Linked DNA regions of Homo sapiens. The protein of the gene in region 3 purifies or fractionates together with the protein of the main gene of each other region. This does not show direct contact. Each region holds a gene or a part of one and is shown on either strand. Other genes may lie near its edges.

What was found.
Region 1: the proteins of TRIM71 (region 3) and DICER1 purify together in Homo sapiens (affinity purification with western blotting, with the first as the bait; one study listed by BioGRID). This does not show direct contact.
Region 2: the proteins of TRIM71 (region 3) and L1TD1 purify together in Homo sapiens (co-immunoprecipitation; one large-scale study listed by IntAct). This does not show direct contact.

The regions. Positions count from the first base shown.
Region 1 is NC_000014.9:95,095,030-95,098,529, forward strand, and holds part of DICER1 (endoribonuclease Dicer), read right to left. Parts: intron 1,685-3,500; coding exon 796-1,684; coding exon of another isoform or gene 743-795; exon of another isoform or gene 317-742; intron 1-316. UniProt on the Homo sapiens protein: Double-stranded RNA (dsRNA) endoribonuclease playing a central role in short dsRNA-mediated post-transcriptional gene silencing.
Region 2 is NC_000001.11:62,197,684-62,201,415, reverse strand, and holds part of L1TD1 (LINE-1 type transposase domain-containing protein 1), read right to left. Parts: intron 1-3,732.
Region 3 is NC_000003.12:32,887,438-32,891,169, reverse strand, and holds part of TRIM71 (E3 ubiquitin-protein ligase TRIM71), read right to left. Parts: intron 811-3,732; coding exon 1-810.

The DNA.
Region 1 (3,500 bases), on a different chromosome or scaffold from region 3:
CCAGTCCAGAGTCAGATAGTTTTTCACTTTTTGGTTTTTACATTTTGCTGATCACCTTAACCTACGCTGCTTTTATTATATAAACTACAAACTTTATACTTTGCTTTGGTGTTCTGAATTCAGGCACTTATTTTTCTGATACAGAAATTGAAATGTAAACTTCAGCTGTGTTTCACAGCCTGAAGCTGATTTGGGTGTGAGGGGCTTGTTCTCCCTTCTAATCTAATGGGTTGACAGTCTATTAAAAGAGGGGCAAATACAGAGCACAGTGAGAAGTAGAAGATGACAGCAGAGTCACAGCAAGGGCCACGCAACCTTCTTGTGAAATCATTGCTTTTAATCTTTTAATCTATCCATCTTTAAAAAGACCCTAAAGGAGGGGTCTTTTTGTCCAGGAAGAACAATAAAAGGCTGTGGAAATACATCCAGAATATACAACTAAATCAAAAACCAAAAGCAGCACTGAATGGGCAAGAGAAAGATATTTGCGGAGGATAAAATGGGGAAAACACATCAAAATACTAAGGTTAAAATTTCTCTAATTAGGCAGATATAAAATGACACTGATGAGGGTATATGATAGCCATACTCCCAACAACCAAAGTTATAAAGCAATACGTGCTCCCCAAATAACAAGGAAAAGAATTCTTTCTATTCCTTTTGTTCCCCGCCCCATCCCTTGAATATTAAGCATGAACACTGTACATGCATAGATCACTTTTACAAGGCCAACACGATGAGATCAACACAAAGTCTCATTTTCCCAGAAATGAAGTCTGGTCGTGGGCTCCTTACCAGTGATAGTATTGTAGTGGTAGGAGGCATGTGTAAAAGCCTGGAGAAGGTAAGCCTTATTCTTGAATCTGTAGTTGATTTTCTTTTCAAAATTTTCAAACCCCGATATAAGGTGATTCAGTGTTTTATCTGCATCTGGATGATCAAACATACATCTTGGTGGAATCTTCAAACAACCATATTCCGAGTCTTTCAATACAGAAGAGCGTGAACTGGCCACAGAAGCAGCAGCACAGCTCACTGAAAGGTTCTTTTGTTGGCTGTTGAAATTCTCCCGAGTAGGGCACAGGGCCTTTTCCCGATCAGTCCTTTTAATTACCGGGAGCACCTTCAGCCCCAGTGAACAGAGGAAAAGCTGAGCAGCCCTCTCCCCACAGCTGGTTAAATAGCAGCCCAGCAGGGCTTCCACACAGTCCGCTATGCTTTTGTCAGCAATACACTGCTCAGTGTGCAAGTCGTAAGAAATGGACTGCTTTCCCGTGTCAACACCACAGTTTTCTTCTGATGGATTCCAGAACCCCACCACAAAGTCATCTTCTTCAACAGCTTTGCTAGGATCCAGATAGCACATTGCATCCCAAGAGCTGTAGTCAAAATCCTCAAAATCTGATGAAAATGGCATACTACCTAAGGAGGATTTTTTGGGCATTTTCCATTCATATGCAGAATCAGTGGTTGAAAAAGGAGAAAGAGAGATTTTCTTTACAAAAGCTCCTGACCCCATTAACATATTATCTATAAATCTGATATGTTCCTGATCATACTCCAGGAAATCATCTTCATAGTCAGCCTCTTCCTTCGGAGCCCTCCACATCAGGCTCTCCTCCTCCTCATCCTCCTCCTCGTAATCCTCATCCAGTTTGCCATTCGCCAGCATGCAGTCTTTTGTCTGAAACGAGGGGGAATGGGGAAGGAGGGGAAACATAGCTGCTGTTTTTAAAAGGGTTTGAAACTCAATAAAAGCAAGGGTTATGGATAATTTCAAATGACAACCACAAATACTAAAAGGCAACTTTAAAATCATGGCCATTTGTTTTCAATTAACATAAAATAAGTTATTTAATCATATAAACAAAGTAAAACATGTTCTTTGAATGTTCGTTTTCTAAGTTATAAAATGACCTTTATCCAGTATGAAGCTTTAAGTTAAGGACTTTGAACATGGATATAAAGTTAAAATTAATGTCCACAATGCAAAACTTCAACTAAGTCGTCTAACTCTGGTAGGACACACAATGAAAGCACTCATATGCTGATCACACAGATCTTCAATTTTGCTGACAAAATTTGAAAATGTGGTAATTTGATTTTCAAAAAGATTTTCAAACTAATAAAACGAAATTCCAGATGTAGAAAAGCATTACCTTTGCAATTAAGAATATAATATAAAAACAGATAAAATCATTTTTTAAAATGTACAATAGGATTTTATAATAAAGCTTTTTGTCCCTATTTCCACTTCAAAGTATACTTGCCACAAAAAAACTACACTGCTTTCCTTAAAAAATAAAAGTGATCACTGCACTAAGCTATGAATTTGAGAAGTTACGTTTTTTCCCTCCACTCTGAACTACGGTAATCAGGGGAACAGATTATAGCATAACTGACAAAAATGGAAGAAAATTTAGACTAACATGAAACACAACAATCCAATTTCTGTCAAAAGATCTTTGCTAATTCCAATTTCTTTGGCAAAAGCTTATTTGTGAGTGACAACCTTAATAATGGGCTAGATTTCAGTAATGATGTAACTTCTTTGCAATCCTAGAAAGATGCCAAATTTCTGTTATGCAAGTTTTTAAAAAACCAAAAAACTTGTGAAGGGGGAAGACGAAGGGTGTGCATCAATGTTGATTGTAACAACTTTCCAGTGTTCTGACAAAAAAAAGTTGCAACCTTCAAGCATTTTTTAAATACTACAAATATTTTAAACTAGACTCAAGATATAAACACTACATTTGTCTGAAAAGAAATAGCAGTAAGCCAAGCCATATCTCTAACTATTTATCTTTTCATTTTTTTAATTAAGAAAGAAACACCTTTTCAAGAATAAGGAACACCAAAAGCAACTGTAGCGGCAGACCTCAAGGAACATTTCCTGCTAACAATCTTAGACTTTCCAAGGCAACATGAAGATGTTTTTGATTGGTCCTTAAGAAAAAGAGGGCCAAACTGCGATTTTTAAAAAATCAGACAATATTTTTTTTTTATTGAAAAAAACCTTCTGTATCTTTAGAAAGGTGCCACCATAAGCCAAAAGTGGCAGAGCACAAAAATCACAAAGGGCTGACTTTTATCACAAACTGTGTGATCCTGGGCAAAGCCTTTTAGTGCCTCTGGGTTTCAGATGCTTCATCTACAAAAGAGTGGGGTTCTGTCTCATAAAATGTTTTTCAAGAGCACTTCAAGCCTTTTAAGAAAAAACAGCCACATGAAATCCTTTTCTATATCATTCAAGTCAACTTTGATACTCTCGTCTATTAAGAGGCGTTTTAGCATGCAAAGGTTTCCACTTAAGCCCATTTGCTGAAGGGCCAGAGCAAGGTAGGGAGAATGGCAATGCAACCAGCCAAAACCACAGTGTATCTTTTCAATATAATGCAAGGGCCTATATTTCAATAAAAGTAACTTACTAAATAAAAATCTGAACAGTATTTCTAATGAATTCCAATAACCAAAGTGCCATCAGAAACATTAAGAAAAAT
Region 2 (3,732 bases), on a different chromosome or scaffold from region 3:
TTAAACTGAAAATCCTTAAGGAAAACCACTGAGCTCTCCCTGGTGAAATAGACTTCTACTTGACTTGCCAAGATGACACAGAAAGCTGAAAACAAGGGTAAACTTCTACAGGCACATAAGGACAAATTTTTCTGATAACAATTGTGCCTTTATTGTGTCCAATAAACGCTACAATAAATGTACTTGAGGCCGGTTGCAGTGGCTTATGCCTGTAATCCCAGCACTTTGGGAAGTTGAGGAGGGCAGATCACCTGAGGTCAGCAGTTCCAGACCAGCCTGGCCAACATGGTGAAACCCTGTCTCTACTAAAAATACAAAAATTAGCTGGGCATGATGGCGGGCACCTGTAATCCCAGCTATTCCAGAGGCTGAGACAGGAGAATCACTTGACCTCGGTAGACAGAGGTTGAATTAGGGTTAACGCCACTGCACTACAGCCTGGGCAACAGAGCGAGCAAGACTCCATCTCAAAAAAAAAGTAAAAATAAAAATAAAATAAAACAAATAAACTAAAACTAAATAAAATATTTTTAGGAAAGACAATGTAAATCAATAGTAAACATGTGAAAGGTGGCCCAATCCCAGGAGTTGAGTACATAATAAAAAAACAATGAGACCACTTTTACCCATCAGAAGTAGGAATAGTTATTAAACATTTCAGGAAACGAAAAGCCTATTATTAAAGTCAGAAATAATACATATACTCTCCCCTTGAGAATCTACCATTAGGAATGAAACCACCTGTACACTTAGGAATACATGAATAGAAATTTTAGTACTGAGTTTTTTCTGGCCAAAAAATACTAGAAAACAATGTCCTTTAATAAGAGAAGGGTGGAACAAATGATGATTTATGCACACGATGGGATTATATAGAATAGATATAACTATATATAAGTACATAAATACATTAATTTATAAAATATACATTATAATATACATTATGGCCAGGCACAGTGGCTCACGCCTGTAATTCCTGCACTTTGGAAGGCCAAGGCAGGCGGATCATCTGAGGTCAGGTGTTCAAGACCAGCCTGGCCAACATGGTGAAACCCCGTCTCTACTAAAAATACAAAAATTAGCCAGGCGTGGTGGCGGGCTCCACCAGCTACTCGGGAGGTTGAGGCAAGACAATTGCTTGAATGCGGGAGGCGGAGGTTGCAGTGAGCTGAGACCACGCCATTGCACTCCAACCTGGGCAACAAGAGTGAAACTCCGTCTCAAATAATCATAACCATAATATACATTGTTATATATATATACACCATGTTATGATATATATACTCTATATGGTGCATACAATATGTTCAACGTACATATAAAAATTATACCATACATAATAAGAGTATATTAGAATCATACCCATTGGTTAAGGATGTCTTTGGTATACTAGAGGGAAAAAATGGTGCAGAAAATATAGAGTACAATCCAATTTTGTAAACACATATACAAAAACCATATGTACAGTAAACACAAAAAGATTATATTAGTCAGGAGAATGCAAATCAAAACACATTCCAGTGTTTGAACACCCTGATTACAGCCAGTGCAGGGGCAAATATCCACCCTGGCCACATTCATAGTGACCCTGGGGATTTTTTGACCTTTTCAGTAATTAATCTGGCCAGTGCCCTATTATCTAACACTACCTTTTTTGGGTAATGTGTTTTCCAAGAGTCACTCTATAGTACATGACAGGTGCAATGAGAAACTCGAAATTAAGTTATTTTTTTTAAAAGAGACAGGGTCTTGCGATGTTGCCGAGGCTACACTCAAACTCCTGTCTCAGCCTCCTGAGTAGCTGGGAATACAAGCACGCACCACCATGCCTGGCTTAAAACTGAAAATTACAGCCGGGCACGGTGGGATTTATTATTTGTTGTTAACTGTATCAAATGCTGATTTTTTTTTTTTTTTGATACAAGAGTCTCACTCTGTGGATTAGGCTGGAGTGCAGTGGCACAATCTTGGCTCACTGCAAACTCTGCCTCCTGGGTTCAAGCGATTCTCCCGCCTCAGCCTCCTGAGTTGCTGGGACAACAGGCACACGCCACCATGCCCGGCTAATTTTTGTATTTTTAGTAGAGACGGGGTTTCACCATGTTGGCCAGGCTGGTTTCAAACTCCTGACCTCAGGTGATCCACCTGCCTCAGCCTCCCAAAGTGCTGAGATTACAAACATGAGCCACTGCTCCCAGCCTCAAATGCTAAATGCTAAATTATGATTAGCGTTTAATGACAATAAATATATGTGACCTTTTTCACATCCAAGATATCAGATACTCTGAATTCTAGCCAGACACTACCCAGGCACTCTGGGTTCAAAATCCCTGATCAAGAAGAAAGCAGAGGCTGGTACAAGTTTAGCAAATTTTGTCTCAGGGTTGGATGGTAGCCATCAAAAGGGCTCAGGGACCAGACGTCCTGGCTTCTGCCTGCAGTCCCAGCTACTTGGGAGGCTGAGGCGGTCAGATTATTTGAGCCCAGGAGTTCAAGGTTACTCTAAGCTATGATTGCATCACTGCATTCCAGCCTGGGTGACAGAGCAAGACCCTGCCAAAAAAAAAAAAGTGATTAGGGAGACCGGAGATTTTCACCAGTGTACTCCCAAGTTCTGCTTTGTATTTTAAGGAGGTTACTTTAAAAGTATACAATACAGGAGAGCACCGGTTGGAAAGGGCAAGAAATGTTTAGCACTTCCCTCAAGGGACTGGGGGTTGGGAGGGCGGATAAACTTCCTTTAATTTTAGGGATGGAAAAAAGCTTGTTGATTTGCATTGCCTTGGCTTGTGACTGCCATCTTTTCATATGTTTATCTGCTTGCATTTCCTTTGTGGTGTATTACCTTTTCAACACTGGCAGCCTGTTCTTATCGGCGGGGTGGGGCGGCGGCGGGGGGTCGGTGTGTGTGTTTTTCTGAATTTGCTGGGGGGATTATGGACTTCTCTTTTCTTCTTTTTTTTTTTTTTAAATAAGAACAATTACTAGTCCCTCACCTCAGTCTCTATTATCTGACCTCTGAGGCCACCCAAAGTTTGGTGTGGTATCTCTCACAACGTACAGGTGACTTTTGTGTTTTTGCTTTTTTTTTTGAGATCTCACTCTCGCCCAGCGTGGCAAGCAGTGGTGTGATCACTGTTCGCTGGTCACAAACTCCAGGGACCAAGTGATCCTCTCACCTCAGTCTCCTGAGGAGCTGGTATTACAGGCATGCTACCATACCAAGATAAAGTGCCTGGTTTTTATGGGTGCATGGGAGGACAATAAAGGAGAATGCCAACTTCGACTTCTAGTTAGTACGTCTCTCTCCTTGGGTATGGGGACATTTACTTTTTTTTAATAGCTTTATACTTTTAACACTATTTTCTTTTTTTCAATAGGCCATTTGTAATCTTCCAGTTATATATGCACACCTCACTCTTCTATGTGTGACATGCCATATTTTGAACATATTTTGGTTCAATAAGTAATTCCCTCAGCAGTGGGCATTCAAGTAATTTACAGGGTTTTGTTTTGTTTTGTTTTGTTTTCTTCTGTTTTTGAGACAGAGTCTCACTGTCGCCCAGGCTGAAGTGCAGGTGGCACAATCTCAGCTCACTGCAACCCCCGCTTCCCAGGTTCAAGTGATTCTCCTGCCTCAGCCTCCCGAGTAGCTGGGACTACAAGCGTGCACCACTGCACCCAGCTAATTTTTGTATTTTTAGGGATGGGGCTTCACCATGTTGGCCAGGC
Region 3 (3,732 bases):
TCGGTCGAACTGCCCAGGCCGGGAGCCCAGGGTGCCGAATTTGTGGTGGAAGGCGCCGCAGGGCTTGAACACCTGGATGCGGTTGTTGCTGCGGTCGGCGACAATGATGTAGCCCTCCTTGTCTACACTCACACCCCAAGGGCGGCAGAGCTTGCCATCGCTGTCACCCTCACTGCCGAAGCTCAGGCCCGGGAGCCCAATGCCCACGTAGCTGCGGCCTGACTTGACCACCACCTTGAAAGGGCTGTTCTCAATGTGCTGGTTGCACAGTGTCACAGATACCAGGTGCTCACCCTCCAGCTGGGGTCGGTAACTCACCACGTATGTCCCATTCTGCTGATCACTCACCTCTGCACCAAACAGGTTGCCATCAGGGCCCAGGACCACAGCCGACATCAGGTCGCCTCCTGAGAGGCGGGGCTCACCATCGTGGTCATAACCAATGACTGTGAAGGAGGCCACCTTACCCTGGAGGGCACGCTTGAGGCCATCGCCTGTGGCCTTGGTGAGTGGGGCAAAGGCCCCGCTGCTAACAAAGCCAAAAGACTTGATGGCAAGGTACAGTGCCTGATCGGGGGGTGTGAACATGACTCGGTCGTCTTCCTGGGGCTGCAGGAGGCTCCGCACGGTCTTCAGCTCCTGCACCTGGGCCAGCATCCGGTCTCGGGCCAGTAGGATGTCTAGCGCTCTACCCTCCTCCAGGACCTGCTGCACGGCACTGATGGTGCTCTCAAGCTTGTTGAGGTTTTGCCGCAGCTTCTCCACCTGCAGGTACAGAGACTTGGCTTTCACCTGGCGGATCTTTTCTACCTGGAGGGAAAAGCAAGAGTGGAGAAAGACACAGAGGCTTAGAGCCAAGCACAGAAAATACCACATAAGCCACAACTAATCACAAGGAAGCATCAGACAAACACATATTGTGGGATGGTCTACAAAAGACATCTGTCTTTCTTCAAAAGCAGCAAAATCAAAATGGACCAAAAAACCTGAAGAACTGTTCTGGGTTACAGAGGATAGTTACTAGAAACAGGACAACTATATGTAATTAGTGACTCTGGACTGGAGGGAGTGGCTAGCTATGAAAAGCACTGTTGGGACAATTGTTGAACCTTGATTATGGACTGAGGAGTAGATGCTAGTACTGTATCAAAATCAAATTTCCTGATTTCTGTAATTGTAATGTGATTAGGGGTAAAGGCATTGTGTTTCCAATATGCCAACTCACTCTCAGATCACAAACATATATACACATACATACATACATACATACACACACACACACATACACGCACGCCTCATGCCTCTAATCCCAGCACTTTGGGAGGATGAAGCAGGCAGATCACCTGAGGTCAGGAGTTTGAGACCAGTCTGGCCAACATGGCAAAACCCTGTCTCTACTAAAAATAACAAAAATTAACCAAGTGTGGTAACAGGTGCCTGTAATCCCAGCTATTTGGGAAGCTGATGTGGGGAGAATCGCTTGAACCCGAGAGGCGGAGGTTGCAGTGAGTAGAGATCACACCATTGCACTCCAACCTAGGGAACAGGGCGAGACTCCGTCTCAAAATAATAATAATAATAATAATAATAATAATAATAATAATAATAATTGGGACAAAACGTACATAATCAGTAAATCTGGAGAAGGAATATATGGAGTTACTATTACTGCAACTTTTCTGTAAGCTATAAATTAAAAAAAATAAAAGTTAAAAACAGCCATCTAGAGCTGGGCACAGTGCTGTGCACCTGTAATCCCAGCTACTCGGGAAGCTGAGGTGGAAGAATCACTTGAGCCTAGGAGGCTGAGTCTGTAGTGTGCCATGACTGTGTCTGTGAATAACCACTGCACTCCAGCCTGGGTAATACAGCAAGATCCCACCTTAAAAAAATAGCAAGATCCCACCACCAAAACCAAAAACAGCCATTTGACAAAGGAGTGTACTGAGCACCTACACTTTGCCAGGCATTGGAGGTACTGCAGTAACCCACAGAAAATATAAAATATGGTCCTTGCTCACACAGAGTTGTAGTTTAGAAAAGCAGTATTCAAAAGCAAACGAAGAAATAAGGATCATGTCAGATAGTGATAGGTGTTAAAAAGTAGAAAAAGGATGTGAAAGACAGTGTCTAGGGGCCCTGATACAGACAAAGAGCACTGAGGGACAGTGCCTTTCACAAGTTCAGACCTACAGGTTGAGACTAGGCAAAAGGCCATAGGGAGAGCTATCTCAGCAAAGGAAACAGCAAAGGTCCTGCTGTGGGCACAGGCTCAGCATTTCACAACCACAGCTTTCAGTAGGGGAGTGACATGACAGATTCATATTCTTAAAGAATTAGTTTGGGGCCCAGCACAGTGGCTCATGCTTTGGGAGGCCAAGATGGGTGGACCACCTGAGGTCAGGAGTTCAAAACCAGTCTGGCCAACATAGTGAGACCTTCTCTGTACTAAAAATACAAAACTAGCCGAGCGTGGTGGCAGGTGGCTGTAATCCCAGCTACTTGGGAGGCTGAGGCAGGAGAATCGCTTGAACCCAGGAGACGGAGGTTGCAGTGAGCCGAGATCGTGCCACTGCAGTCCAGCCTGGGCAATAAGAGCGAAACTCCGTCTCAAAACAACAACAACAACAACAACAAACCGCAAAAGGATTAGCTTGGGAAATGTGTATTAAAGGAGACCACCACCACAGGGCACCTTTTTTTTTTTTTTTTTTTTTTTTTTTTTTTTTTTTTTTGGTAGAGATGGGGTCTTAATGTTGCCACGGGTGGCCTCAAAATCCTGGACTCAAGCAATCTTCCCACCTCAGCCTCCCAAAGTGTTGGCATTACAGGCGTGAGTCACTGTGCTTGGGCCAGTTTCTCTTTACTTCTGTATTTTAAGAATGGTTTTAAAAACCCAACTGGGAACCTGAGAAGCCCTGTACCCCAAATTTTAACATAGCACGCTTTTGGCATGTCTGTATTATTTCCAAAAGAGCCCTTTAAATCTAAAATGCTATAATATATATGGACATGGATTCTAACCTGCCAAAATAATTCCTGCTTGAGGTTCTCAAACCATGCTATTTAGAAATATGGAATTTTGTTTTACCAATGAAACATTAGTTTCTCTATTCTTTAAAAGTTCTCTAATTCTAAGCAATTTCCCCCTGTGAAGCGAATGAACTTATCCAAACAGTTTTCACAGAGGACCATGACTTGAGTTGTTCTACAGATCTGAAAGCCATAGAAGGCTATTTCAGAATAAGCGTCCACTGTTGAAAGAGCTGGATTTCAACCTGACTTTCCCTTTAGGGTGGGAGGGGTGATTATATGATTTCGACTCATTCCTGCTTTTTCATCTGTTCAGTGAACCAGGATACATGTGTATGGAGAGGCCCACGTGGGGACAGATTAAAGAATATTTGCCCATTAGGCCAAACCTCCACCTTTGGTTCTTACCCATGAACTATATATATGCAGCTAACCCCATGAGGTAGCCAAGTCCACTGGAAATACATAAGGCCCAAGAATGAAGAGAGGCATCTGGATATTTACAACAGGGTTATCTTAATCCTTGCACTTATATATCTTAAAGTAACCAGAGATGCAGGAAAACAAAACTTGTAACAAAGAGATGCCCAGACAGAGACAGGCAAAGTAAGAGGGATTTGCTGGGAAGGAACAGAAAAAAAAAAAAAAAAAAAAAGTCAGTAATTAGTCAAAGAGAGAGGGACCCCACAGGATTTGGAG